Homo sapiens: one gene and its partners. The protein of the gene in region 2 purifies or fractionates together with the protein of the main gene of each other region. This does not show direct contact. Each region holds a gene or a part of one and is shown on either strand. Other genes may lie near its edges. The genes, in order: ATP2B4, LILRB4, CD47 and MKLN1.

Region 1 (7,771 bases), on a different chromosome or scaffold from region 2:
CTGGGAGTCCCAGGGGTAAGACGGGCTGTGCTCCTTTGACTTGACCTTGAATCTAGAGACTTGGTGGTAAATGGAAGGGAGAAGGGTCTGAGGCTCGGCACAACCTGGGAGGCAGGAAGCCTCCGTTCGCCGCTCGGTTCGCATTCTCCACGGAGTTCTCAGACTACAGCAGAGCCCGGGAGGGTGGAGCCCAGCGGCGGAGAGGCTGGCGGGGCGGGGTCGCAGAGGCCGCGGAGAGCACAGGGGCCGCAGGGTTGCGCAGTCAATCCTGCCCCGAGCCCCGGGGGAAGGGCTGAGACTGCGGGAGCCGATTACCCCTTTGGCCGCGACCCCGGGCTCAGGCGACCCGGTGCGCGCTAAATAACGACCTCACGGAGAAGCCGTCCCCGAGCCCACCAACATCGACCCCTAATCAGATTACTGAAAATAGGAAGGCCGGCTGCAGGAATAGCTGCACTCTGAGCCTCCACGATGGGAGGCCGCGGCGAAAGCGGCGTGATTTTCGAGGTTGCACCTCAGCAAGATGGTGGCAGGGAGGATGGGACTCCCGAGGAGGAGTATAGAAATGGATCCCCTCCCTCCAGAACACGGGCATTAATTCTGTCTTGGGGGCCCTGCCCACTGGGGAAGGCCTCATTCCCTTCTCGAGCAGAACACAGGTAGGGAAGAGCTGTCTAGCCGAGGGGTGCAGTCAGATCAATCAACACCTCAAAGTGAAAATCAAATCGTTCCTGTTGCATCCCCAGCCCCGAGATGAGCTCTCCTCTAAGTGTTTTACTTCCTTCTCCCGCAGTGTCTCAGCTGTAGCCTTTACCACTCCTCCAAGCCCTGGGGCTGAAGGCAGGTGTTTCCTCTCCCCCAGCCTGATTCCCACAGATTTGTCTGCTTCAGGGTTTAGGGCCCACCTTCCAGAACACGCCTTACCAAGCTGCCACCATCCTTCCTGCCCCTCCCAGAGTCTGCTCCCCAAGCCACCACCCTCAGCCAAGGAGGGTAACTCAGCACATGGGCTAGGAGGCCTCTTCCACTCCCCTTCTTCCTAAACACTCCTGGCCCAGCCCCTCGTCACTCCCAGGCTGCTTTCCTGGGCCTGGCCCAGCCTGGAATGAGCCTGGTCTCCTTCCTCCAGGTAGAGGGCTCAGAGTGGAGGGGGCGTAGTAGGGCCTCCAATGGGAAGCGCGTGGAGAAGGGGCAGCTTGGGGAGGGGCTTAAGGAGCAGGGCCAGGGTCTCTAGACTCCCTGCCAGACTCCTCACACAGAGGAGGGGGGCGCTGCAGAATGGGATTTTGTTTCCCTTCCCTCCCCCACTCCTTTCCCCTCTCCACAGGGGCCTCAGTTGAGTACCGGCCTATTTCTTCATCTGACATTCCCCCTGCCCGGCCAGCAGGCGCCGGCATCACGTCTGCAAGTTATTGTTAAGTCCGGCAGGAATGCCCAGGAGGGACGTGCCTCTGGCAGCAGAGTGCCCACTCCCCTCCCAAGATGCGGCTGGCCACTCCTGCACCCTCCACACCCAGTTGGAGAAGAGCGGCGGGTACCCTCAGGGAGGTGGAGGAGTGTAAGAGGCCAGACTCGACTCGGGGAAGGATGCCAGCAGCCCCCTCTACCAAGAGCGAGCCAAGTATGTAAAAGAAAGAGAGAAGGGAGAGCAGGAAGGACAATCCCAGTCTTAATTCCTAGCTCTTCAGCAAGCCAAGGCAGTGGCCCGAGACGCTCAGGGATCCTTCCACAGATGCCTGTGGCCCACCCCATCTGCCAAACACTCACCAGCCCCACAGTGTCCAGCCTCGACATCGGAAACTTTTCAATTCACCCTTCTCCTTCCTCCCCTTTGGGACCAGAGATGTGTGGGGCGGTGCCCTCGGAGACACTCATACAGTTGGTTCTGGACGCTCACACACACTCAAACAACAGCGGTACGAGGTAACTCCCAGCTTTTTCCACAGCTAATTATACATGTGAAAGTCTGAGGATGTTTTGCAAGCAGCACAGAGAAACTGCTGAGGTTTCTCTGCAAAGCTAAAGAAATTTAATTCGTGCACTCTCCTTCCCCACTCCTGCCAACTTCTCCCAGCCCACCTCCACCCCATGGCCCCAAAGTGCCCCTCTCCTAGTTCCCGCTGCAGCCCCTCTTTCTGCTGAAGATTTCTTTGGTTCCTTTTTTTTTTTTTTTTCCATCTCTCTTTTGGGCTTTCGAGAAAGGGAACAGACACGGAAAATATTTTTGCAACAGTTTTCCATCCTGCGTCTCATTCCCAAGCCAAGGGGGGAAGGGGAGGGCAGGAACGGAATGGGTTGAGGGAGGGGAGATAAATATTTTTTCCAAGAGCTCAATTTTGGTGTCAAAAAGAGAACCCTCCATTACCCTACCCCATAGCCCAGGAATGACAAGAACTAGGAAAAGAGAGATAAATCACTTGTTCGACTATATGGTTTCTCAGAACTGATAATAGGTAAAACAGTATTTGACAAATCTGTGCACACACACATATTTTAAAAAAAATCCTCCAAACCCAGTCGCATGAAATATTCTAGAAAGAGGAAAATCGGGGAGTTTTAGAAGCCATTGAGAGAAAAGAAAGAAACAAAGTTTGCAAATCACAAGTCAATTCATTCTCTGCAAGCCTACCTCTCTTTCTAGCAAAGATCCAGGTTTCTTCAGGCGGGACTCTCCCTCCGGGTTTCCATGGATGAGGGTAGGGTGGGGTGACCACCCACCAGTCTCCCCAGTGTGGCAACCAAGCTAGAGACGCTGGCTTTGCTCTCTTGCCTTTCTGGCTAAGGCCGGGGAGTGGGCTGGGTCTCCTCCCCCTGCCCCTCCAATGGGAAGGACCTCTCAGGTTCCTGAAAGAAAAAGGGTGCAGGAGAGCTGGGCGGGTGTCTCTGATCTTGCTCTCTTCGGAGGGATGGTGCCCCACGAAGTTCGTGCCCCCCCTCCCAGCCCCCAGCTTTGGACGATCTCAACAGCAGAGCTTTCTTAAGAAAATGCTTGTCATGGCAACAGCTCTAGCTAACTCGGGCCAGACTCTTGCTCACCAGCTCTCCCCAAGCAGTGCGGGAAGAGAGAGGGGAGGAGCAGGAGCTGGAACAGAGGTGGGACTTGGCGCGAGGCCAAACCATTACTCTACTGTTAAGGTGGCCCGATTCTTGCGGTTACTTCCTGGTTCGTCTTAAGGGGGAATGGGAAAAGAAAGGGAAGCAATCCTCTCCCCTGTCGGCTTTCTTCCCCGCCCTTGCTCTCACTTGTTGAATAGAAAGCTGAGTAGGGGTGGAGGAGGGGTGAGGGTGGAGGTGGGGAGTGGATGTGGGTGGCGGTATTCAACGGTTGCTGGGCGGAGGGGAAAAAAAAGGAAGCTTGGGCAGGCGGCTGGCTTCCTGCAGCTCCTACGGGCCTCTCAACCCCTTACTCACTTAGATCCAGGACCCAGAAACCCGAGGTGTCTGTGGACACTTGTATGTCCCCTCCTACCTTCCTGCTCCTGTCTGAATAGGGGGTTCCTTGGAGAAGGAGAATAAATTGTTTTGTAAACACACACACACACACACACACACACACACACACACACACACACACACCCGTCCTCCCCTACACCTTATATACAGGTCACATTTTGTTCCCTCTTGTCCCTGTACCCACCAGAGGTATACTGACAGTGCATGAAAATAGCTGCTTACTTTTGAGTCCTGCTATGCGTGGGCTATGACACCAAAAGCTTTGTCTATATGGTATCGTTTCTAGTCCTCATTTAATCTTGAAAGGTACTTATTATTAACCTCATTTCCTAGTTGAGGGAATTGAAGATTGAGTGTCTGGCCCAAGGTTATACATCCGGCTAATGACAGAGCCAACGATTCAAGACCAAGTCAGACAGACTCCAAAGCCCGAGTACTTTCCTGTACTTTGTATCATACTCCGGCACATATTTCCGTTTTAATTTGCACACACTCAGACATCCATGCACACTTATACACAGCCTGTAAACAGTTAATCACACCCCCATACCCACACACCCACTAGCATTGTGCAACAGTGCCACCCATAGATTTTGCATAGAACTTTATGGCTTTCAAGCACAAACATGCACCATCAGCTGGTTCACACAACATATCTTCATTGACTGACAGATTCCCACACCTACCTCAGCAAACACACTCATGTTTATATGCTTATGGAAGGCACATTGACATATGTCTCACAGGTTATAGCTATGAGCTATGCTGTGAAGAAGGTGACTGGCCACTACTTCCCAACCTTTTAAACAGAGGGTTGGGAAAAGGCCTCTTTGATCCTATCATTCTAACCCAACAGCTCACACCACCCCCTGTCCTTCTTTGCTGTCATCTCTGCCCCCAAGAAGCAGAGCCACATGTGCATGGAGAAACAGGGTTGTGAAACGGGGTCCAGTTTCCCCCGTGTCCAACTAGCACCCTTCCCAATGTTCTCTCATTTGGGTCCTCTTTTTCCTCTTCATTTTCTTACCCTGCTATTTCTTTTTTCTTTATGGTTTTTTTTTTTTTTTTTGAGACGGAGTCTTGCTCTGTTGCCCAGGCTGGAGTGCAGTGGCGTGATCTCGGCTCACTGCAAGCTCCGCCTCCGGGGTTCACGCCATTCTCCTGCCTCAGCCTCCCGAGTAGCTGGGACTACAGGCCCCTGCCACCACGCCCGGCTAATTTTGTTTTTGTATTTTTAGTAGAGACGGGGTTTCACCATGTTAGCCAGAATGGTCTCGATCTCCTGACCTCATGATCTGCCCGCCTCGGCCTCCCAAAGTGCTGGGATTACAGGCGTGAGCCCCCGCACCCGGCCAGTAATGTTTTTAGACTGGTTGGGCTGGGCTCAGAACTCAGAGTTCATCAATGTGAGGCTGGAGATTGCCTGCTGTCATCTGAAAACAAAATCCAAAATAAGCCCTGGCTAGGCACAGTGGCTCATCCGTGTAATTCCAGTACTTTGGGAGGCTGAGGAGGGAGGATCACTTGGGGCCAGATTTCAAGACCAGCCTGGGCAACATAGCAAGACCCACCCCATCTCTACAAAAAAATTAAAAACAAGAGAAAAAAAATAAGCCCCTGCCTGTGCTTGTGCCTCTCCCTGCCAGCAGCCGAAGAAAGTTGCAGGGGTAAGGGGAGATTTTAGGGTCACCCTCTATGGGAACTATGGATTGTTTGGTCTTTTTTGTCTAGTGATTGACTGTCTGACACTCAAGGCACTTACAGGACACTAAAGGTGACCTTTGTTCTCATTTCAGCCTCTTGCAACTCCTCTAGTCACTCCCACCTTCCCAGGGCATTTCAAGAACAGTTAGTACCTTGTTAGATTCCTTCCTTCCTCCCTCCCTCTTCCCTCCCTCTTCCATTCCCTCCCTCTTCCCTTCCCTCCCTCTTCCCTTCCCTCCTTTTTCCCTCCCCTTCCCTCCTTTTCCCTCCCCTTCCCTTCCCTTCCCTTCCTTTCTCCCTTTCTTTCCCCTTCCTTCCTTCCATCTCCCTTCCTTCCTTCCCTCCCTCTACCTTCCTTCCTTCCTCCCTCCCTCTTTCTTTCTTTCTTTCTTTCTTTCTTTCTTTCTTTCTTTCTTTCTTTCTTTCTTTCTTTCTTTCCTTCCTTCCTTCCTTCCTTCCTTCTTTCTTTCTTTCTTTCTCTCTTTCTTTCTCTTTCTTTCTTTTTCTCTTCCTTTTTTCCGTCCTTCCTTCCTCTCTTCCTTCCTCCCTCCCTTCCCTCCTCCCTTTCCTTCCTTCCTTCCTTCTTCCTTCCTTCTTTTTTTTCATTATGGGTCTCCCTGTGTTGCCCAAGTTGCTTTTAAACTCCTGACCTCAAGTGATCCTCTCGCCTCAGCCTTCCTAGAAACTGGGACTACGGGCACACCCTACAATGCACAGCACCCTTGTTAGATTTTGGTAGACCCTAGCAAAATATCAGCTTCAGGAGCCCAAATCAATTGTTGGGGAAGACATGAGAAAGAAAGGAAAAGAAATGAATCAGCTTAACAGAGCTGCAGATTTAATGGCTTGTCAGGCTCCCTGCTGGATGGCAACAACATGACATTTTAGCACCAATGAGTGTCAGTTGCATCTTTATCATAAGAAAGCCAGTCTCTGAAATGACTGTTTAAATGTATTAAAGTATATTTTAAGCTCGTCTGCAGTGGCTGTGTGTGGAGGCATTGCCTAACTGTTCAGTAAACTTGTCTTGGGGGAATGACAATTTAGGCCAGATGTATGGTCCCAATAAAGAAGAAGTCTGCTTTGGCTGCCTGTTTTGTGGGGACTGGGAAATGATACCCTTTCATAGCTGGTTATTATTGGAAAGGTAAGATCTTCCCCTCAAGCTCCCTGGATTCCAGGGAGACAGGCTCTGCCAGGGAGGTGCTGTCAAAAGAGGCTCTGATGGCTGTCCCACATCTGGCTGGCTAGGATTCAGGGGCAGGCCAGGTTTATGACTTCCAGGGTGGCTGTAGATCCTCCCCTTGACCGGCTGTGGGGTTGTGGGATGAGAAAAAAGGAATCCCCCTCCCACTCCATTCCCACCCCAGCTCTGCTGCAGACAGGAGGGAGGGATGTCGGGGGGTGGGTCAATGTGACCCCAGAGGAGCCGAGGGGACCATAGCCTGATCTCTGTCACTGAGCTGACCACTGAGGCCTGTGTTTTCTGGAAAGCTAGAAGCCTCAGTGCTTCGCTTCTTGCAGCGGCAGGTTTGAGGTCTAGAACGGGTAAAAATAAATCTATCCATAAAAATAACCACTAGATGTGGGAAAATGGAGTTGGCCCCCCTGGGGCAAGAAGGAGGACACTGCCTCTGGCATCAGAAGTTCATAGTCTGCCTGTTCTGCTCAGCTCTGAGCAGTCCTGTTTCCCTCTTCTCCCTGCTGTACTCTTGACTTTACAGGTTCCTGTTCTTTAGATCTAGCCTGGCTCTCCTCAGCCTCCTGAACTCCCCATAGCAGGTCAGTCTCTACAGGGCTTACATCACTGTGGACCCTGTCCCTACCCCATCTCTCACTTGAGGAAAATGCAGTCAGCACTGTCTCTCACTTAGGTGTTTAACAGAATGTGTTCCTCTGCCTCTTGATGACTCCACCTTGAGTTTTCCAAATCTTCCTCACCATTTCCTGTACCTCCCCCGAATGCAGACTGCATGACTCCCTGTTGTGAATATCTACCATTTTGCCTTGGCTAGAACAGCAGCCATTTTCCCCATGCCCGAACCCAGTTCTTTGGGACGTCCTTTCTTCTCACTGTTAAGATGGAAACTGGGCCAGGCATGGTGGCTCATGCCTGTAATCCCAGCACTTTGAGAGGCCGAGGTGGTTGGATCACTTGAGGTCAGGAGTTCAAGACCAGCCTGGGCAACATGGTGAAACCCCGTCTCTACCAAAAATACAAAACTTAGCTGGCACGGTGGTGCGCGCCTGTAGTCCCAGCTACTCGGGAGACTGAGGCAGGAGAATCGCTTGAAACCAGGTGATGGAGGTTGCAGTGAGCTGAGATTGCACCACTGTACTCCAGCCTGGGTGACAGAGTGAGACTCTGTATCAGTAAATAAATACATAAATAAAAATACAAAAAAAAATCACTGGGCATGCCTGTAATTCCAGGTACTCAGGAGGCTGAGGCCCGAGAATCACTTGAACCCCAGAGGCTGAGGTTGCAGTGAGCTGAGATCGTGCCACTGTACTCCAGCTTGGGTGACAGAGTGAGACTCCATCTCAAAACAAAACAAAACAAAACAAAAAACAACAATTGAAACTGACATTTTATTAGCAGTCCTAACCCCAC
Region 2 (7,782 bases):
TGGCTGGTGCCCTGAGCCCACCCTCCATCAGCCCACGGGTCCCCCAATTTCCTACTTACCCAATGTCCTGTGTTTTCCCTGACGCCAGTGTTGGAGGAGGAGGAAGAGGAGGAGGGAGAGAAGCAGGATGGAGACCACCAAGACCCCGATCAGTACCTCCCAGTGCCTTCTCAGACCTTGGGCGTGATGACATCAGGAATGGGGATGATGTCATTGATGTGCACACCTACTGTGTGTGCACCTACTGTGTGTGCTGGGTCTTTCTTTCATTACCTCCAACCCTCACAGCAGTTGTGCAACCTGAGATTGCCACCCTCTCTCCACCCATTTCACAGATGCACAAACTGAGGCTCAGAGAGGGGAATCGCCTGCCCCAGACCCCTCCAGCCAGGAAGCGGCAGAGCTGGGAAGGAAACCCGGGAGTCTGAGCTGCAGCCCTTGTTCCTGCACCAGAGCCAAGCCCCAGAGTTGCAGGGAAAGAGCCTGACTGTCTTGAACCACCGCCCTGCTCCCCTCCCCTGCCCCAGGTCACCGTCTCTGCTGCAGGTGGGACCGGACAGGCCCCTGCGGAATCGGGTCTGGGAGGTTCCCTGGGAGGCCTCCTCTCCCAGGAGGGCACAGCTGGGAGTCAGAGCTGAAAGGAACTTTCCCACCCGCAGGCCTCTCTCCTTTACACTTGGAGAAACTGAGGCCCATGCAGGGGAGGGGCCTGTCCACATCACCACCTCCAGAGGAGCCTTAACCTAGGACAGAACCCACCCTTGGCTCCCCTAGACCCTGCCCACCTCCCACTCAGAGCCCCTCACTCACCACTGTGGGGGACTGACCCTGTAGGCATGAGGGGCTGGTCCTCAGGGCCTGCTGGGTTAGAACAGGGATGTGAGGGCTGGGGCTGCCCTGCTCCCCACATCAGCTCGGCTTCTCCCCGCAACATCTCCTTCAGCCTTGACCCCCTCACCCCTCACCAGCCCAGCCTCAGGGCCTTGGGAGCCTGTGGTGCCTCCCAAGTCGCTGCCCGACTCCCACACCCGTGGAAGCAAGCCCAGCTGAGAATTGGAACGAGGACTTAGATCCACTGAGCATGTCTTGAGACAGGCCTCGGGCTTTGGAAACTCTCTGGACAGAGGCCTCTGAGACTCACCAGCTGTTGAGACGGACCTTGTGGGTGAGGGCCTGGGACCCTCCAAGGATCCTGGGTAGAAGGACAAGAGGAGGGTGAGAGTCTGGGGTTGCCCTTGGGTCTCCACATCAAATTGAACCTCTCCCTATATCTGCCCTGCAGCTTCCCAAGGACCATTTCTCTGTCCACCTGGCACCTTCTGGACCCTAGGTGAGGGAGAAGAGCATGGGCATGCCTGGGAGGGCCCCTGTTGTCCTCCTCCCCTCTGAGGGCTGAGTCCCCCACTGGCTGAGCCCCTCTCCCTCCATCCCTGCCCAGAGCTCTCCTGGCAGCAGGGCATGAACGGAGCCACTGAGCTCAGAGAGGACAGGGTCAGGAGCCTCACCTGAGACTATGAGCTCCAGGGGGTCACTGGGGTGTGACAGCAGGTAGTGGGAGAAGCCGTGTGAGCTGAAGCACCTGTAGGTCCCCCCGTGCACTGAGGTCACAGGACTCATGGGGAATTCAGCCTGGTGCTGCTGAGCTCCGTGCTCTGATCTCAGATGCAGTAGGGGATGGGCTGCCCGCTCCTTGATCAGAAGAAAAGTGTCCATTGGGCTCCGTGACTGACACAGCAGGGTCACGCTCTTTCCTGAGGTCACAAGAGGACTCGGCAGGGCTGAAAGGGTGGGTTTACTGTAGGCTCCTAGGAGAGAAGGAGGCACCGTGTTAAATGGGGCTCCCACCTCCCACATCATCCCCAGGGCTGGGCTGTGAGAGGGAGATGCCCCTGAGAGCTGACCCCCTTCCTGAGGGCAGAGCCTGGGGCTGGGACCCCTGAGTGTCCTCTCACCTGTCATCACCAGCTCCAGGGGGTCACTGGGCTGTGACCAGCCTACAGGGCTGCGATAGTAACAGCGGTATCTCCCTGCATAGTCCTCTGTCATGGATGGGATGGAGAATCTGGCCTTGTTCTTGGGCTCCAGTGGGTTCTGTCTGTCCCAGGGTGCTGGGCTTTCCTCTTTATCCAGACGGTACTCCCGAGCCTCCAGGGTCCCCTGACACCAGATGGTCACAGAGTTCCCCCAGCTGATCACAGAGCCTGGCTCAGCCCAGAGGGTGGGTTTGGGGAGGGGCCCTGGAAGAAAATCAGAGGCTGGATCCCAAGACCTTCCTCAGCCCTCAGATCCCAGCTCTCAGCCCCAGGACCCCCCCGTCATCCTCATCAGTCACCCAGAACTGCTGTCTCCTCCCCCAGCTGCCCATGGGTGGCCCCTTGTCCCAGTGAGGAGGAGGGACCTGGGACAGCTGGGGACAGACTCACCTGCCTGCATGTGGGTCCTGGGGCCCAGACTCAGCCCTGGAAGAGAGTTCCCTGTGAGGGATTTGCCCCGGAAGCCTGAGCAGGTCCTCTCTTTACCCTGAGATTTTTTTTTTTTTTTTTTTTTGAGACGGAGTCTCGCTGTCACCCAGGCTGGAGTGCGGTGGTGCGATCTTGGCTCACTGCAAGCTCCGCCTCCCGGGTTCACGCCATTCTCCTGCCTCAGCCTCCCGAGTGGCTGGGACCACAGGCGCCTGCAACCACCCCCGGCTAATTTTTTGTATTTTTAGTAGAGACAGGGTTTCACCGTGTTAGCCAGGATGGTCTCGATCTCCTGACCTCGTGATCCGCCCGCCTCGGCCTCCCAAAGTGCTGGGATTACAGGCGTGAGCCACCGCGCCCGGCTACCCTGAGATTTTTGAGTCTCCTAAAGAACCAGGGCCTGGCTGTGAGGCAAATTTCCTCCAAGACTCGGGTCTCCCCTCCCCCTCTTTAAATCTCACCGAGGCAGAGCAGAGCCGTGAAGGTGGGGATCATGGCGTCTCCTCCCAGGGGCCCCAGCTGTGCAGATGGATGAGTCCTCAGTGCCGGCAGGACAAAGAGACACACAGGGTGTGGCCGCTTGGAGGCTGGGTCCTTCTCGTCATGGGGTTGTTCCATCAGCAGCCCACAGGAAGGGAAACTGCCCTCATTTGAACCCCAGCCTGGCTTTCATTTCCCCAGAGCTAGGGCTGAGGCAGGCACCAGGTTCTCTGCAGACATTTCAGACAGAAATGGGGTCTCTCTGATCCCAGCCTGCTGTCTGCCTGGTCTTAATTCCTCTCTTGACCAAACATCAACCCGTATGTATCGTGTGTTTGCAAAGCGCCTGACACTGGGGGTACATCATTGAACAAGTGAAAAAAAAAAAAAACCAAAAACCTGCATTTTCAGGGTACAGATGAACCATAAAGCTTCCTTTTGCTGCCATAACAAATCACCACAAGCTTAGTGGCTTCACATAATGTAGGTTTATTGACTTACCGTCCCGGAGGTCACAAGTCCAAAATGGGTCTCCCTGGGCTAAAATGAAGCTGCTATCAGAGCCGTGTCCTCCTGGAGGCTCCAAGGAGAATCTGTTCCCTCGCCTGTTCAAGCCTCTGCAGGCTCCCGCATTCCTGCCTCTCCATTCCCTCCAACCTCAAAGCCACCAGTCCCGTTATCTGCCCCCTGCTTCCATGCACTCACCTCCTTCTCTCACTCTGACCCTCCTGTCTTCCTCTTTCACTTACTCAGCCCCTTGTGATTACATCAGGCCCACCTGGGTAATCTCCCCAACCCAAGATCCTTGACTTAATCACATCTGCAAAGTCCCTTTTGCCACATAAGCTTCCCCAACTCACAGGGTCTGGGCCTCAGGAGGTGGACATCTCTGGGAGGTCACTATTCTGCCTCCCACAGGCCTTCAGGGACTCCTTTAACCAAATCTCACATAGAGCACTTCTCTGCGATGACGGAGAGTGGCTGGGCACGCCAGTCGAATGCTTGGTGGGCCAGTACGCAGCCAGGTCATGGTCGGCTACTCATGTCCCATGGGACCTGCCCACTTGAGGCCAAACATTCCATCTCCACCAGAGCCCGGTAGACATCTAAAAACTGTGTCGCAAAACAAAACTCATTCTCTGCAGCGCTAGCACGATGTAGCTCCAAAATATATATATATATTTTTTCTTTTCTGAGATGCAGTCTCACTCTGTCGCCCAGGCTAGAGTGCTGTGGTGTGATCTCAGCTCACTGCAACCTCCGCCTCCTGGGTTCAGGAGACTCTCCTGCTTTAGCCTCCTGTGTAGCTGGGATTACAGGCACCCGCCACCACTCACAGCTAATTTTTGTATTTTTAATAGAGATGGGGTTTCACCATGTTGGCCAGGCCGGTCTCGAACTCCTGACCTCTGGTGATCCGCCCATCTCAGCCTCTCAAAGTTGCTGGGGTTACAGGCATGAGCCACCACGCCCAGCCAAGCATAGATTTTAAATGTTTTCACAGATGTTAGTATGCGGAGTGATGGACATGTTAACTGTCTTGATTCCATCATTCCACAGTGTATACATTTATAACACATTGTACCCCATAAATATATATAGTTGGTGAATTAAATATTTAGTAAAATTATTTTGAAAAGGAAAAAAGCCATAAATACATAACAAGCAAGCAAAAAGGCCAGATAGCTTCAACCCTTAGATCACTGCCTGTGTAAAACACTTCAGGTGGCCAGCTCTCAATAATCATCCATTTGAGTGGGCACGTCCTGCAATGATCTGGAATTGTAGTCTGTCCTAGATGGTGACTAACCATTTTCTGTCTCTGTTCTTCTTAAAAGGATGAGAGGACCTTCTAACTTTAGAACTGAAACATAGGGTGGGAGGGGAAAGAGGAAGCAGAAAAAACAAACCCCAAATTAATTGTATCTAACGGTCAGGAAGGCAAAGAAGGAGAGGCTTGCAGGAGGCTGAAAGTCAAAGTGCCGGGAAACGCATGAACACCACTGCCCTCAGGTTTCCAAGCACCTGCTTTTAGTACCTCATTCCGTATCCTTTTGGGTCACTCTCAGAATCACGGGACAGTATCTCATTTCGAGGATTTCCATGTGTCTCTCCACATTTGTGTGTAAGGACCTTATTGGAAGCTATTTCAGCCAAAGCTTGATGCGTCTGACAGTGGCTGGGGAAAAAGAAACTCCCAGAAATGGGGGCTAGAAAGCCATACACATATTGGCGAGTATCTCCTGTTTTGGCGGGAAGTTCTGGATGATGGTCTGCACATTATCAGAGATCCTGGTGTGGACCTGTCCATATTACCTGCTGTAGTGGTGTCCGCAATGCATGCTGATTTCAGGAATTCCTCTCCTTCTCTCTTTCATAAGGGAACCCTATTCCCTTAAACTTGGTTCCCAAATCAGTTACCTGCGCTCATATCCTTGTCTTAAGTCCTGCTTTCAGAGTAACCTGTGCTAGGCAAGGACTGGGAAATGCCAGGAGGTTTTTCGATGTCATCACCCCTTTTCTAACCGCTCAACATGCCTTGCCTTTACCAGTCCTGGACTTCTTGTATTTTGCTTCTTTTTTTTTTTTTTTTTTGTGACAGGGTGACACTCTGTCATCCAGGCTGGAGTGCAGTGGTGCAATCTTGGCTTACTGCAACCTCGGCCTCCTGGGTTCAAACAATTCTCCTAACTCAGCCTCCCGAGTAGCTGAGAGCTGAGATTACAGGCAGCTGCCACCACACCCGGCTAACTTTTGTATTTTTAGTAGAGATGGGGTTTCACCATGTTGGCCAGGCTGGTTTCGAACTCCTGACCTCAGGTGATCTGCCCGCCTTGGCCTCCCAAAGTGCTGGGATTACAGGCGTGAGCCACCGCGCCCGGCCTCATTTTGCTTTTGTATTCGTGCACTCACCACTCAGTAAATCTTATCCATCCTCACTTAAGAAACATTTAAACATGTCAACCTGTGGCCATCCCAGGACACAAGAGATAAAGGCGAGCAAAGCAGATATACTGGATTCACAGTAACCCAGACTTCATTTCAAATTACCTCCCCTCCTAGAAAATCTAGCATCCTAGCAAAAATTAAGTTGATAAAATCACTACGCAAAAAGTTTAGAGATAGGACCAGTCCCGGGAAGGAAAGATTTAACGCAATAGGACAGGATAAAAGAAATACCCACTGGGTCCTGCACTCACCACCTGGGTGCAATAGTTCCATGTAGCAAACCTGAGCATGTATCCTCGTATCTAAAATAAAAGTTGAAGTTCAAAAAATAAAGAAGAAAAACAGAAAGCAATTGAGATGGAGGGTGGTGAAGAAGCTGAAGGAGAGGTCAGATGGTGATGATGAATTGGTATTATCTGAATGAAGGGATGCCTGGAGGTGGAGAGAGAAGCATTGCAGGAGGTCCTGGTCATAGGTATTCAAACGGGTGGATCCTAAAGCCTTACAAGAAGTAAAAAGACCACAAGAGTCGTTCATTCATTTCCAAGTATATTTCACTCTAGAGTCAAGCTTTTGTGAGATACTGAAAACAGGACCTAGTTGGAATGAATCATAAATTTCCATCTTAACTTGGGGTCACGGGTGTTCTGTGATTCATAAGAACCCATGTTTCATTGTTTCGTTTTCTTTTTTTTTATTATTATACTTCAAGTTCTGGGATACATGTGCAGAACGTGCAGGTTTGTTACATAGGTATACACGTGCCATGGTATTTTGCTGCACCCATCAACCTGTTGTCTATATTAGGTATTTCTTCTAATGCTATCCCTCCCCCAGCCCCCCAGCCCGTGACAGGTGCCGGTGTGTGATTTTCCCCTCTTCGTGTCCATGTGTTCTCATTGCTCAACTCCCACCTATGAGTGAGGACACGTGATGTTTGGTTTTCTGTTCTCGTGTTAGTTTGCAGAGAATGATGGTTTTCAGCTTCATCTGTGTCCCTGCAAAGGACATGAACTCATCCTTTTTTGTGGCTGCATAGTATTCCATGGTGTATATGTGCCACATTTTCTTTATCCAGTCTATCATTGATGGGCATTTGGGTTGGCGTATTTGATTTTATCCAGGGTTCTACAGATGCCAAGGAAGGGGTGCAGCTCTACTTAAGTTTACCTCTTGGTCTCTCCTTGGGACCTCCTCTGACTGTGCCATGCCTGAAACACCAACCCCTCTGTCACCACCAGGATCAATTGCAACTGCTCCATGCACATGAGACTACTGCATAGTCTGGGAGCAGTTGGCCTGGGGACAGTGGGATTGGAAGACCATGGAGGGTAGGAGAGCTCGCAGTCCACACAGCAGCCAGAAGGGAGGATATTTCAACATTCTCAAATCAATAGATATGATATCTCATGTCAACAGAAGGAAGAACAAAAAACATATAATCATGGGCAGGCGCGGTGGTTCATGCCTGCAATCCCAGCACTTTGGGAGATTGAGATGGGTGGATCACTTGAGGTCAGGAGATCGAGATCAGCCTGGCCAACATGATGAAACCCCATCTCTCTCAAAAATGCAAAATATTAACTGGGTGTGGTGGTGTGCACCGGTAGTCCAGCTACTCGGGAGGCTGAGACAGGAGAATCTCTTGAACCCAGGAGGTGGAAGTTGCAGTGAGCCAAGATCGCGCCACTGCACTCCTGCCTGGGTGAAGGAGAGACCCTCTGTCTAAAAAAAAAAAAAAAAATTATATGATCATCACAATAGATGTTAAAAAAACATTTGACAAAATTCAACATCCCTTCATCATTAAAACTATCAACAAATTAGGCCTAGAAGAAACACACCTCAACAAAAAATCCCCAGATAATTCCATTAACAAGTATGCAAAGCA
Region 3 (7,752 bases), on a different chromosome or scaffold from region 2:
GTAACTTTATGATAACCCAAGACGATATTATTAAAATCAGACTGAGAGATAAGATATGAAAATAGAAATGTTTATCTTGTATAAAAAGGTAGGCAGAAACCTAAGACAGGGAAAGTGATTGAAAATTATGCCACAAAAAGAACATTACTATATTAAAAGCAATGCCTATATACTAGCTATAGCTGAATTCATACTATGAAATGCAAATCTAGTTTTGCGAATATGCGTGATTATTTTGGATTTAGAATATGTATCAATTTGGGGGGAAAGTCATCTATCTCTCATCTTTAGAACTTGGCCTTTCAAATCTCCATGAACAACTCAGTGACAAAGATAAAACATCTGCCAAAACACAGATGACAGCATGAGCAAGTGTCCTAATGGTAGGCATTTAGTGTAATGCTTTAAAAAACACTGCCTCTAGACTGCTGGGGCGGCCCCATAAATACGTACTTTTAAATAGGCATTTACTTCCTTAAAATGGCAACTTGTAATTAAAAATAATATATTCTTTAAGAGAAAACATTTTTATTTAAACAAGCCAAATTACTACTAGACTTAGACGATGGAAAAAAATTTTATTTAATCATATGTACCCTGATTTAAAAAAAAAAACAACTCATTTTGAACAAAGAGGAATCATTCAACCACTGAAAAGACAGTTCACAACACCATCATTATTTATTTAAAGTTTTATTTGCTAGCTAATAAATACCACTGAAACTATGCACTTTTAAACAAAGTATAATTGTACATGAGTGGGGGCAGAGTGGAATGCAACATAGTAATTCATTTCACATCTTGCATACCATTAAGGTGCCTTCCAGTTTGCCTGTAATTGCATGAAATGAGTATCTGAGATAACTTCTTTTACCACAAAGGCCACTAACACTGTAGAGGGTGCCAGGAAAGGTCCCTGATTCCCGGGGCTTAATTAACGAAACTGAAAGCAAAATCAAACTTCAATACAAATGAATGTACAGATCCATCACTTTCTTACTCATTCTAGATTCTAAAGTCAGTCTCTCAAACCCTTGGTTTATAACTACCTATGTGCTGAGACATCTTTCTTCATACATGTCCTTTTGAAGCTATATATTAAACACATACAAAAACATATTTTATAACAAATACTATCCTGTTTTACAGTCCACACTTAACACAACTCAACTGCATAATGCCTGTATTTTGCTTTTTTTTTAGGTTAATATTAACTAAGTAAAATAAAATACTATAAATTCTGAATTCGATGACTCTAGGGATTCGAACACATTAAAATTGTGTGTAAACGAGTGCTAATTACATGATATTAACTATTACTAAAGAAGGCCTAACATAAATCCTATCACTCAAAGTACCATTCCAACAGTTCTAAACTACGTGATTTAAATCTAACCTACCTGTTTTAAAAATAGTATATGGTTTATACTTTTTACTTTTTAGGCAGTTTGAATAAATGATACTGTATCACTTCATATCTGGTTCAATATGAAGGCGTTCTGAAATTATTATGCGATTATACAACACATCTCTGAAAGCAGTATTATTTTAGCTATAATGATAGTAAAGGCAACAAGCATACTAAACGTGATGACAGGAAACACTAACATCAACCATTTAGATAACGGAGACCTGGATTCACAGTCCCAACATCCAGGATGCTCGGGGAGGGAGGAAAGTGGTAAGCAGAGACTTAAGGGCATCTTGGAAATACCTAAAGTCACAAGCCTTTAGGAACGGCACACCGAGGCTAATAATCAGTTTAAAATCGAATTAATTTAGCATTCTAGAATAAATGTAACAATTGCTGTCACTGGTGCTCAAGCTGAATTCTGAATCTTATAAAAGTTCACAAAAGGCTCTATGGATGTGAAGTGTGACAGGCACTCACTGTAGAGCTACGAATGTTTCTATTCCTTGCTCAGTTTTTACAGACGAAGCACACGTTTTACAAAAGCGAAATGGATTCCAAAAGCTCGGGGTGGGGGTGGGGGGGTGGAGGTTCTTTGGCGTCGAAAAACACCAAATCCCATTCTGCTGCACATGTTTTGACTGGAGGTTACTGTCTTCCTATTTCAGGCGAAAACCAGATTACTTTTAAAACGGTTCCCCCAAATAAAGTGGGAAAAACTTCAACGTACAATTTAGAATGTATGCAAGTGGCTGATGGGGCGTGAGGGTCACGAGAAAGGAAGAGTTTCCAGCAAGCTTATTTTTAGGATTAAAAACGACAGCAAAAATTACACGGCCGGAAGATTCTTCTGATTGAATGCTGAGTTGAAAATGAAACTTAATTGTGTCCTTTACGTCCTCTTCGCTCCTATGTTCATGTGGGAGGCAAACGGCAGAAACCCCTTCTCACCGACTTCGCCAAAATGCGCACTTCCATCGCAAGAGGCCCGGGCCCTCCCACTCTCCCTCCCTCAACCCCAAATGCGTCTAAGCACTGAGAAGGGAGAGGGGTGCGAAAGAAGGGGATCCCTAGCAGCTGCAGCCCCTTGCCTCTGATCGCGCCCTTTCTTGCTAGTTAATTTTTGCGCGAGGTGCGCGGTTTGGAGTCTTCCTGTGTGTGTGCATTTGGAGATGGAGAACCGGGTGGAGGAGATGAGCCCCGCTCTCACCCAGGGGGAAGAAGACGACCAGGGAAAGGAAGGGAGGAAGAAGGGGGGCGCCCGATTCCCCGTGGGGCCCTCCCACGTCTGCACTTCGGGCGCTCAGGGCCCGAGTGTTCTGCGCCCCGGCCACCCTCTTCAGGGCGCCGCCGGGCTGGCTGGGGCGCAGCCCACACGCCCGCGGGGGCGAAGCGACAGCAGCCGCAGGGCTGGGAGCGAGGAGCCACTCACCGCAGCACGCCGAGCCCAGCAACAGCGCCGCTACCAGGGGCCACATCTCCGCGCCCGCCGCGGGGTCGCCGCCGCCGCCGCAGGTGTCCGGAGCAGCAGCCGCCGCCGCCGTTACAGGCAGGACCGACCGCCGCCGCGCGTCACAGGCAGGACCCACTGCCCAGGCTGCACGGCCGCGCGCACGCGCGCTCCCACTGCTTCCCGCCCGCTCCCCCGCCTGCTCCCCGCCCGCGAGAGCCGCGCACGCGCACTCGGCCCCGCCCCGCAACCGCTGCTGTTGACGCGGCGCCCTCCCCAGTCGCAGGCTCCAGACCCGGGGCCCGCCTGCCCGCTCCACGGAGGCCGGATGCCTGCTCCAGGGCGGTGGCACGCGCCGCGCTTCCAGGTCACGTCCTGTCGCACCCGCCCGCCCCTGGGGTCCGCGTGCTCGCCCGCCGCAGGAGGCTGAACCCTGTGTTCCCACGCTCGCCGGGGACCTCATTGCACCCGTTCCTGTCCGCGGGTCGGTTCCTGCCTTTCGCGCGGCGCTGGGCCCCACTGTCCTCTCTCTCTACTTTTCTCCTCTTTGCTTTCACTCCCACCCTCGCGCTTCAGGGGCCGGGTCCCGTCCCGCCCCAGCCCGCGTCTCTCCCTGGACCCGACGTCCGGCTGCGCGCGTGGACCAGGACACCTAGGCTTTCACCAGCGCCCGTTTCCTCCGGACGCGGCCGTCTAGCGCCGAAGCGGTCCCTGAGCCCGAGGCCGCCACGCCCAGGGCAGGGCGGTGGTCGGGTACCTGCCCGCAGGGAGCTTCCACTCGCCCCTCGCGGGCTCTGCGTTCGGCTCGTCTACTCGCTCTGCTCTTCCCTATGCGGTTCTCTTCCCTCTTTCTCACTTGGTTCTTTAGTGTTTTCATCCTCTGATCAGGGTTAATCAAACAAGTTCCATTCACGGTGGTAAACATTGTTACCTGTGAACACCGCCACCACCGGGACTAGCGAGCATTGTCGCAAACAGGCATTAGCAGCGTATCCAACACATCCCCACCAGCAAGGTTATTGAGCTTGGTTTGTGACTGCCCCATGTGCAGCCCTCTGCGCTGCGCTTGGGTTTAACATGCTTGAAAAATGGGTTCGAAATGTGGCCGCAAGCCACAATAGGGACAAGGCTTTTGAATTTATCGCTGAATCACACAGGCCACATCATTCATCCTGAAGCAAAAGTCTTTTAAAGATACTTTTAACCGTTATCCTAACTGATGTACTCTCTTATCAAAAAGTCAGGCTCTGGTGGCTGCTCTAATGGAGTGCACATCCTGTCCACCTCCTTGATTGTTTTCCTCCTACCTCCTGGGAAAGAAAGCAATTTCCCACCACAATACCCCACTTCTCCAAATCCTCTACACAGTGCGGCTCCTCCCAAGCATCCCATTGCCACAGAAATAAAATCCAGCGTATGAAAGTGGCACTGTCTATGACACTCTGTACCAGTGTATTGTATACTATCGAGCTTCTTCCTGTAATTGCTTTTTTGTGTGAACCTCTTCCCCACAGCATTATCAATTCTTTTAAATCCGAGAGCATTTTAAGTATTCCCTCCTCCAAGACTTTCCATTGAGCTCGGCAAACAGAAGGGGTTTAATAAATGTGTTGATGCGGCGTGAGGCAGGCATTGCTCTAGTGAAATTTGATTGCTTTTTTAATGATTGAAAAATAAAAACAATTGCCTGGCAGACATCTCACTAAAACAATGGTTAATAATTATGGTGGTAATGATTTGAATGGCAGCCTTGACACCCCGAGGCAACCAAAGGGACTCATCGATTCTCCTCCAACTGCTGCTTATGTGGATACAAAAGAATCATCCACCAGACTTTGAGCATTAGGGACATTGTGTATCACAGAGCAGCTGGTTGGCTAAATAAGGCTGTCAGCTGTCCCTGATACCAACCAACCCCCCTAAAGCTGAAGAGTGACTAGAAAGGACTGTCCCCAACCTTCAGAGGTGGAGATCGGGTGATGTTCTGTTTTACACTGGGAGCTACTGAGCTATATGCTTAACGTCTTTTTGTGCAGAAAATGGAATGAGAGGCCACCTGGGTGACCACTGCTGCTCTTGGGAATCTAGCTGGGGTATGTTTTGGTGGTGGGGCAAAAGCAGGCATATCCCAGGAGAGACAGTCCAAAGCAGCCTGCCTAGGTTTGATTATCCTCTCTCTGAGATAACCTTAAGCTCTTTTCAGTATTTAATCATTTTAAAGGTTTGCCTTTTAACTTTTCAAAGCATTTTAATTTGGATGTTGAGCTCATCTTATCTGTATGTAAGGAGTTTCTTGGGTAGAGAGGGAGGGGATAATACATATTAGAATGTTTTGAACACAGGAAGTACACATTAGCTATATCACCTAAGTTAATCTTCATAACAACCTCAGAAAGGATAAATGTTATGATCTCCCTTTTTGAGATGAGGAAACAAAGGGAAAGAGGAATGGTGAGCACTTTGCCCACAGTTATAAGTGACACTGCTCTCTCTCTTGTCTCTCTCCCTTGTTCTGGTTTTCATCCTTTTTTCTTTTTACCCTATAATAGCAAAGTTGCTACAGTTTCCCCTTTACAGATAAATAAACTTAAAAAAATCACTCTTGTCACCTTTATAGATAAGGAAAGTGAGGCTTGGTCACAAGCTCAGGGAGGGACGGTGGTTGGACTGAAGTCTCCCTGACTCCATGGCCAGCGAAAAAATTCACAAACTTCCTCTCTCAATGCATAAAAAATTTCCCTTGCCCTCATTTCTGTCTCAACGATACATCTACTTTTATCTTCCTCCCCACACAACATCAAGATCCTGCCACATAGTAGGTATTGATATGATAGTATCTTTAAATGTTTATGTAGATACAATTGTATCCTTATTGTAACTTCATTCAGCAAATGTTTTGCCCCATGGTGGTGTGTCATGCAACGACATGAGACAGTGCTGTCTCCTGGTGCCCCAAGGGGTTGGCTTAGAACTGTATGTGCCTACCTACTCATAGTCTGTGCTTTGTGTAGGGCCAGATGCATCTTTCAACGTAAGGGAACATAACAGCAAAGGATCCCACAGTAAATCAAGGCCCATGATAATGCCAGTATAAGTTAAGTGCACTTCTCTGTGTTTTAGTCTTACTTTGGTGCATATCAGTTACCATCTTTTATTGAAATTATGTTTATATAGCTGTCTTCGTGTTCAGTAATAACTGTTTCCTATACTGTAAGCTCAATGAGGGGAGGGACCATATGAGTCTTCTTTACTGCTAGCCCCTTTGCCTGACACATAGTATGTACTCAACAAATCGTTGTTAAAAGAATAAATAGAATGAGTGAATAAATGAATGACTGAATGAGTAAATAAACCTCTCAGGGTCAGGAACCATATCTTCAATCAGTGTCTGACAAAGCACCTAGCATAAAAGGGTGTTGTGTAAACATATGTTTTATCTTTTATTTTTTGTTTGTTTGTTTGTTTTGAGGCAGAGTCTCGCTCTGTCGCCCAGGCTGGAGTGCAGTGGCATGATCTCGGCTCACTGCAAGCTCCGCCTCCCAGGTTCACGCCATTCTCCTGCCTCAGCCTCCCGAGTAGCTGGGACTACAGGTGCCCGCCACTACGCACGGCTAATTTTTTGTATTTTTAGTAGAGATGGGGTTTCACCGTGTTAGCCAGGATGGTCTCGATCTCCTGACCTCATGATCCACCCGCCTTGGCCTCCCAAAGTGCTGGGATTACAGGCGTGAGCCACCGTGCCTGGCCAACATATGTGAATGAAACTATTGAACTAACCTTGGAGCTGACCTGACATATTAGAGGTTCTTAGCATCATTAAATTCCTAATTTTGACTTATCAGTCATCAGCTGGTTGTAGTTTCAGAGTATTATCTCTTTCTTCTTAGTGTCTCTGAATATGTGCTTTTTTTTGTAATTAAGATTCTTCACTTGTTAATACTTCTGGCCAATGGAATGCAAACTAACATCTGTTGCATGGTCAGGCAACACTAGCAACACTGGATTATTCCATGCCTGGACTATGCTACTTTCAGGCTTTTGTGCTTCAATTACGCTGTTTGCTCTGCTTCTCATAATGCTCCCTCATGTTTTCTTCTTTGCTCCTCAACTCAGAGAATTCTAGCTCATTCTTCAAGGCCAAGATCAAATATCACTTCCTCCAAGAAGCCTTTCTCAACCCTACTTTTCCTCTTTGCCATGATTCTCCATCATTTCATAGGTCTAGTTATCTCTCCCATGATGCTTTGTTCATACTGCTAACAAAATGTGTCAGTAGATATTTGTTTCTACATAATAGTTTCCTCTTCTATCACATTAGCTTGGAGAAAATGAAATTTGTCCTGAGTATATTTGCATGTCTGTATTAGGGTTCTCTAGAGAGACAGAACTAATAGGATAGAGAGATAGGTGGATTGGCTCATGTGATTAAAGAGGCTGAGACGTTCCTCGATAGACCATCTGTAAGCCTGGAGACACAGGGATGCCAGTAGCATGGTTGTCCAAACTGGAGGGCCTCAGAACCAGGGAAGCCCTTGGTGCACCTCTCACTCTAAGGCTGAAGACCTAAGAAGCCAGGAGGCCACTGGTGCAAGTCTCAGAGTTCAAAGGCTGGAGAACCTAGAGTTCTGATGGCCAAGGACAGGACGAGAAGGGTGTCTCAGCTCCAGGAGAGAGAGCAAGAGAGCCTTTCCTCTGCCTTTTCACTCTATCCAGACCCCCAGCCGGTTAGATGGTGCCCACCCACATTGAAGGAGGATCTCCCCAACTCAGTCCACGAACTCACATGCCAATATCCTCTGGAAATACCCTCATAGACACACTCAGAAATAATGATTTAGCACCCATCTCTTAATCCAGTCAAGTTAATACCTAAAATTAACCATCACAATCT
Region 4 (5,280 bases), on a different chromosome or scaffold from region 2:
TCCTAGATTTTCTGTGGCATTCTGTAGGACATTGTATTGCTTGGAAAAAAAAAGATCAAAATCATTCTGGGGCAAATGCTCTATTATCCTTATTTATGACAAGAGAATAATGAAATTCATAAGAAATTAATAACATTCAGATATTGCTATAAATGTACTTGAGTCATTTTCATTTGGGGATAGTAATAATGGCTGTGGCAGCTTTAATGGAGAAACCTGTGTTGGCCTCTTTTTCTGGCATTAGGATCTCTTGTCATAGAACTATTGGTAAAGTACAGGTTTGATAGCAGAGTTCCTGAATTCAGCATATCATCAGAATTTCCATTTACCTTTTGTCTTTTCTTTTTATTGTATTTTTTAACCTTTTTGTTTCTATTCCTACCTCCCATGAGTAACATTGATTTCTGCTGAAGTTAGAATTTGTGTTAAGAATTGACTTTAAACTTCTGAAATAGTTGAATATTAGAAGTGGCTTCAGTTGCCATGAAATGATTGCTTTTCTTTTTCTTTTTTTTTCCTTAAATAAAAATAATGCAGCCTTATATATGTCTCTTCCCCTCAAGAATGTGAATTTAGGCTGGGCATAGTGACTCACGCCTGTAATCCCAGACCTTTGGGAGGCTGACACGGGAAGATTGCTTGAGCCCAGGAATTTCAGACCAGCCTGGGCAACACAGGAAGACTCCATCTCTACTTAAAATATTTTTGTTTTTTAGCCAGGTGTGGTGGTATGTGCCTGTAGTCCCAGCTACTTGGGAGGCTGAGGTGGGAGGATCACTTGAACCCAGGAGTTTGGGGTGCAGTGAGCTATGATTGCGACACTGCACTCCAGCCTGGGCAACAGAGCAAGACCCTGTCTCAAAAAAAAAAAAAAAAAAAGAATGTGAATTTAGCTCCAATTCCAAATGACTAACTCTTAGGCCAGTCATAGCCAATGAAATCATCTGACGGTAGCTTCTGTAGCCCTTAACCTAAGGAGTCATTAGAGGTTATAGTAAATTAGTTTCTCTAGTGGTGCAGAGAGAAATGCCATCGGGGAAATTATCACTGTCTTTTTGGCTAAAGTTTTATATTGTGAACTGGATCCCACTTAACAGCTTAAAAACACAAAAATGAAAGGGTAGTCCTAGTTTATCTTCTTAATTAGAATCATTATTTGGAAATAAGATTTGCAATGTGCTGTCTATCCCCAAACACTGCTGAGCTTGCTGGAAAACAGAATTTAACATGAATGTTGTCTGAAAGCTGTAGGATCAATGGCAAAAAAGGGGAAATGTTTGGTAGGGAATTGGACCAGTTCTAAGGTATCACTTTTAATTATAAAATAATGTCTTCCTTTTTATCTGCTTTTCAGACAGCCTCAGTGAACTATTAAACATTTGTGTGCAAAGTCCTATTTTGCTTATCTAAGGCATTTTGACTTGGAAGTATTAAACTTCAGGAACGAGCTAGAGAAGACAATGAGGGTATGTTAGAGAAGGAAAAATAGGAGCTTTTTGCTTATGGATTTTAGAGGTCCACAAATCGAAAGGAAAAATAAATTTCTTCATTTCTAACCCTAAAATAATTTTGTTAATGAGATGCTGGGAAGAAGACTACCAAAAGGCCTCAAAGCTCATGCTTCTAGAATATTCAGTAATTCTGAATAGTCTTTGGGAAGTAGCATTTCTTGGGAAGTAGCATTTCCCTTCTTCCAAATAACTGTTTGAGATCTTAAAACAGAAAATCCAGTGTTAATGGGCTCTAGATCTTAAACTAGGTGAGCAGCTTCTTACATACAACCAGTTCCTTGTTAAGGATCCAGCAGGAAAACCAGCCATAAAACATTTCAACATGCAGTTTGGGGGCTCCCTTGCTTATTCACTGAGTTTAAGCTCTTGCTGCAACATAGCTCTGTACCATCTGGGATGCTAGCAGTCACAGCAGTTAGCTCAGATATCTGAGCTGTCTGCCACACAAAGCCTGAGGAGATCATCATTCTTCAGTTTCATTCATTACTTAATGAATGCCAAATTAATTGGCAGGAAGAAGAAACACTGTGTGATATACTGAACAAGCCTGTGTGCATGAATAAGGAGCCACTCAAAAAGCCAATTTTGAGCTTTATTTCTCCGTTGTTAACAAATCTCAAGAAAGCCTTTGTTACAGTTTAGCTCATGTCATTTGGTTGGTTTTATTTTCTAGCCCTTTAACATAGGAGGAAAATTGTCATTTCATGTATAACTTGTAACACAGAATTGAACTGATACTAGTTTCCTTGCCTTAAATTAATTATATGTCATCCCAAGGGTCTCTGTTAATTCTGCTTTGCCAAGCAATAATGAGATCTGGGTTTGGCATTAGAAGTATTTCATAATTTTGGTTTTTTATTTAGGTTTCCTCCACATCTGTAAAGTGATTGATTAAATTAGAGGAGGCGTGTAGAATAAATCCCAATCCCATTGCAACTGGCAGAGCTTTATAAATCTTTATAAATTCAGTTACAACAAAGGAGAGGATCCTACACCATTAGAGCCATGCCATCAGGTGTTTGCAAGTGACAGCTGTAGTGTGTTGCCTCAAATAATACCAAGTTATAAATAATACCAAGTAATTATCAACTCACTCCCAAATTTAATAAGATATCAAAGTCCAAAAGGTTACTTAGGAGTAGTCTTCCGTGGGGGAAGATAAATTTATTAAAGAGTCATGTACTGATCTTTTTCTTGGGATTTTTTTTCCTTTCCCAGAAAAAAAAATTATTTTGGTGACTGATCAATTGTAAACAATTTTCTTCCTTACTTACAAATCATCCGTTCAGAAAAATAAAAGTGGACTTCCTTTCCTAAGCATTACAATTAGCCTGGGCAAGAGGTGTTATGATTGTCTTATTCTTTAAGCCGGCTTACTTTTTGGATTTGTGTGAAATGTCTTTTGAAAAGAAAGTAGATAGTATAGTATTAATTAACTACTTTGTATAGTCTTCTGCATAATTTAGAGTTGAAAATAATGTAACATTTTCCTGTGAACAGATTCCTTTATGCGTACATACTTTATAAATATACATACATACACATACACATACATTTTTAAAATGCTCTTTTTAAAGAGATTCTTATCTTGCTCCCACTCCAAAAGCTATGTACAGTTGAGTTATTAGCCTCAGAGGAAGAGTACAGGAAAGCGAAGATGAGGACCTCCTTTTCTTGTGTTGGTCTTGGGAACAAACAGTATTCCGTCTTTCAAATATGGCATATTTCTAAACAGTTTGGGAAAGATGTTAGAATTTTTTAAAAGTCAGCTCTTTTATAAATTGGAAGTACTCAGTAGTCAGAAATTAAGATCCCCTCTGATAGAGATAGATTCTCAAAACCAAAATTGGACTGAAAATTAGATTGAGAAGAAAGATACAACTTCCTCCATAGCCAATAAAATCTGTCTTTCCAAGTCTGCTTATTAATGCTGTGAATCGCTCCTTCTGTTTGTGAAAACATCTCCTGGACTGGAAATGTGGTGCTGTAACCAGCTGAGCCGAAAGTTGGAGAATGTTAAATATCTTATATGGGACTTACGATAAAATGTATTGATGTTAGTGATTGTCAAAATAGGTTTATCATTTAAAAAACTAGGAAATTACTAAGTATAAAGAAGAAAAACCAGTATTAATTAAGTGATGAGACCTGTTCATTTTGTTTTCCCTGACTTATTTCCATTACCAAACATAGTAAAGGCCAGAAAAGATTAAAAAAAAAATTAACACAGCCATTCCATTGTTTTTTACCACATGGAGAAAGGACCAGGCTGGAAGCATATGTCCCCCCACCCTTATTTATATTCCTTTGAGCATTGCCGTTTTCTAGACAGACAATCCGAAAATAATTGTGTTGATAGGTCTGTTTAAGCCTGAACTCTGGGTGTAAAATGTTATCCAGAAGCTATAGGGAGCTGCCTTGCTCAGGTCATTGGAAATTTCAACCCTAAGACTCATTGGAATTTCTAAGTCCGTTATGCACCATTATGGGCATATGGAGCATATTCATACCATGAGGAGGAGTCTTTGTTTATGATGGACTTTTTAATATGGCCATAATTAAACTCACACTCAAAAAGGATGAGCTATTGTCAAAAGCCAAAAGAAAAACAGACAAAATGAACATGAAGCAAGGAGTCCATAAAACAAGAGTTCTTTACCACGTTTAAGCAAATGTCTCTCAAAAAAAATTGTATTTCTGTGCACATTAGCTGAGATTCACACATTTTGCACCTCAGTAGTATTTCAGATGAGACTCAATGTGTGGAGAAAACCGCTAACTTGTTTGGTTCTACTCTTACCCCCTCTTCTGTGGCAATGTGGGGTCAGGGCCGTATCCTAAAGTATCCACATGGTCTTAAATGGAAATCATGGGACTCTGGAAAGCTGGCATGAGCTGGTTGGAGCTTTTAAACAGAAGTGCTTTATGGGTATCAGATCTCTTCTGACATCAATTGTTTCAAATCATTGTTGGGCTCTGTCGTGTTCTGCAATCTTCCCCATTCCCCTCATGATCTCTGGCTTATCTTTTATCCAATCTGTATGGACTTTTTAGGATTTTTTTTTTCTTATAGTACAAATAATTTTCAGATCCCAGCTTTGGTAAATGTGTTAATTCTACTTTGTGAATAAATAAATGAGTGATCTGCTAAAAATGGCAATTGTAGAATTATGTTGTATGTAATGTACATATGGAGAAAGAATGTATTTTGTTCATTTTCTTAATAAAATGTTATATATGGATGCTACAAGATATCTCTTGTATTTGCTCAAACTACTTTTGAAGTGAACTTTTAAAATGTTTTTGTACTTTACAGTTGTGTTTTTTCCCCCAGAAAGGTGAGTTTTATTTAGGCTTCCAAAAGGAAAGTGATACGCTTTCGAAGGGCCTTTGGGTGTTTTCCTTTGAGACGGTGCTCAGATGAACAAGTACCGGCCATGCTCACAAAGTTTCTGCGGGGAGGCTTCCACTTATTTAAAGACCACTGGTAAATTATTTCATGAAATGTTCTTCTATCTACTGTTAATGACCACCCTTATTTTATTTGCTTTGTCCACTTGGACTTATGTTCCTCTTTAAAGGGGATATGCTTGTACAGGCTGGAACTAGAAGGAAAGACTGAACTGAAATGGAAAATTCACTGTAGAAAAGATAGTAAAGGGAGAGAACCTAGAAGTGTTGCAGTTTGGGAAAATTCTGGATCCCTGTCCCCATTAAAGGGGAAAGACACTTTATGGGCCAAATCTTGAAAAAACTAAGCTGAGAAATA

The links.
Region 1: the proteins of LILRB4 (region 2) and ATP2B4 purify together in Homo sapiens (co-immunoprecipitation; 3 studies listed by BioGRID and IntAct, with this or other methods). This does not show direct contact.
Region 3: the proteins of LILRB4 (region 2) and CD47 purify together in Homo sapiens (co-immunoprecipitation; 3 studies listed by BioGRID and IntAct, with this or other methods). This does not show direct contact.
Region 4: the proteins of LILRB4 (region 2) and MKLN1 purify together in Homo sapiens (affinity purification with mass spectrometry; 2 studies listed by BioGRID and IntAct, with this or other methods). This does not show direct contact.

What each region holds. Positions count from the first base shown.
Region 1 is NC_000001.11:203,622,078-203,629,848, reverse strand, and holds the start of ATP2B4 (plasma membrane calcium-transporting ATPase 4), read right to left. Parts: upstream 3,018-7,771; 5' UTR 2,630-3,017; intron 1,913-2,629; exon of another isoform or gene 1,768-1,912; intron 1-1,767. UniProt on the Homo sapiens protein: Calcium/calmodulin-regulated and magnesium-dependent enzyme that catalyzes the hydrolysis of ATP coupled with the transport of calcium out of the cell. By regulating sperm cell calcium homeostasis, may play a role in sperm motility.
Region 2 is NC_000019.10:54,658,209-54,665,990, reverse strand, and holds the start of LILRB4 (leukocyte immunoglobulin-like receptor subfamily B member 4 isoform 1 precursor), read right to left. Parts: upstream 3,007-7,782; 5' UTR 2,958-3,006; coding exon 2,924-2,957; intron 2,460-2,923; coding exon 2,424-2,459; intron 2,238-2,423; coding exon 1,953-2,237; intron 1,806-1,952; coding exon 1,506-1,805; intron 1,193-1,505; coding exon 1,142-1,192; intron 862-1,141; coding exon 811-861; coding exon of another isoform or gene 803-810; exon of another isoform or gene 784-802; intron 177-783; coding exon 60-176; intron 1-59. UniProt on the Homo sapiens protein: Inhibitory receptor involved in the down-regulation of the immune response and the development of immune tolerance. Receptor for FN1. Receptor for apolipoprotein APOE. Receptor for ALCAM/CD166.
Region 3 is NC_000003.12:108,088,020-108,095,771, forward strand, and holds the start of CD47 (leukocyte surface antigen CD47 isoform 1 precursor), read right to left. Parts: upstream 3,013-7,752; 5' UTR 2,890-3,012; coding exon 2,844-2,889; intron 1-2,843. UniProt on the Homo sapiens protein: Adhesive protein that mediates cell-to-cell interactions. Acts as a receptor for thrombospondin THBS1 and as modulator of integrin signaling through the activation of heterotrimeric G proteins.
Region 4 is NC_000007.14:131,491,875-131,497,154, forward strand, and holds the end of MKLN1 (muskelin), read left to right. Parts: 3' UTR 1-4,758; downstream 4,759-5,280. UniProt on the Homo sapiens protein: Component of the CTLH E3 ubiquitin-protein ligase complex that selectively accepts ubiquitin from UBE2H and mediates ubiquitination and subsequent proteasomal degradation of the transcription factor HBP1.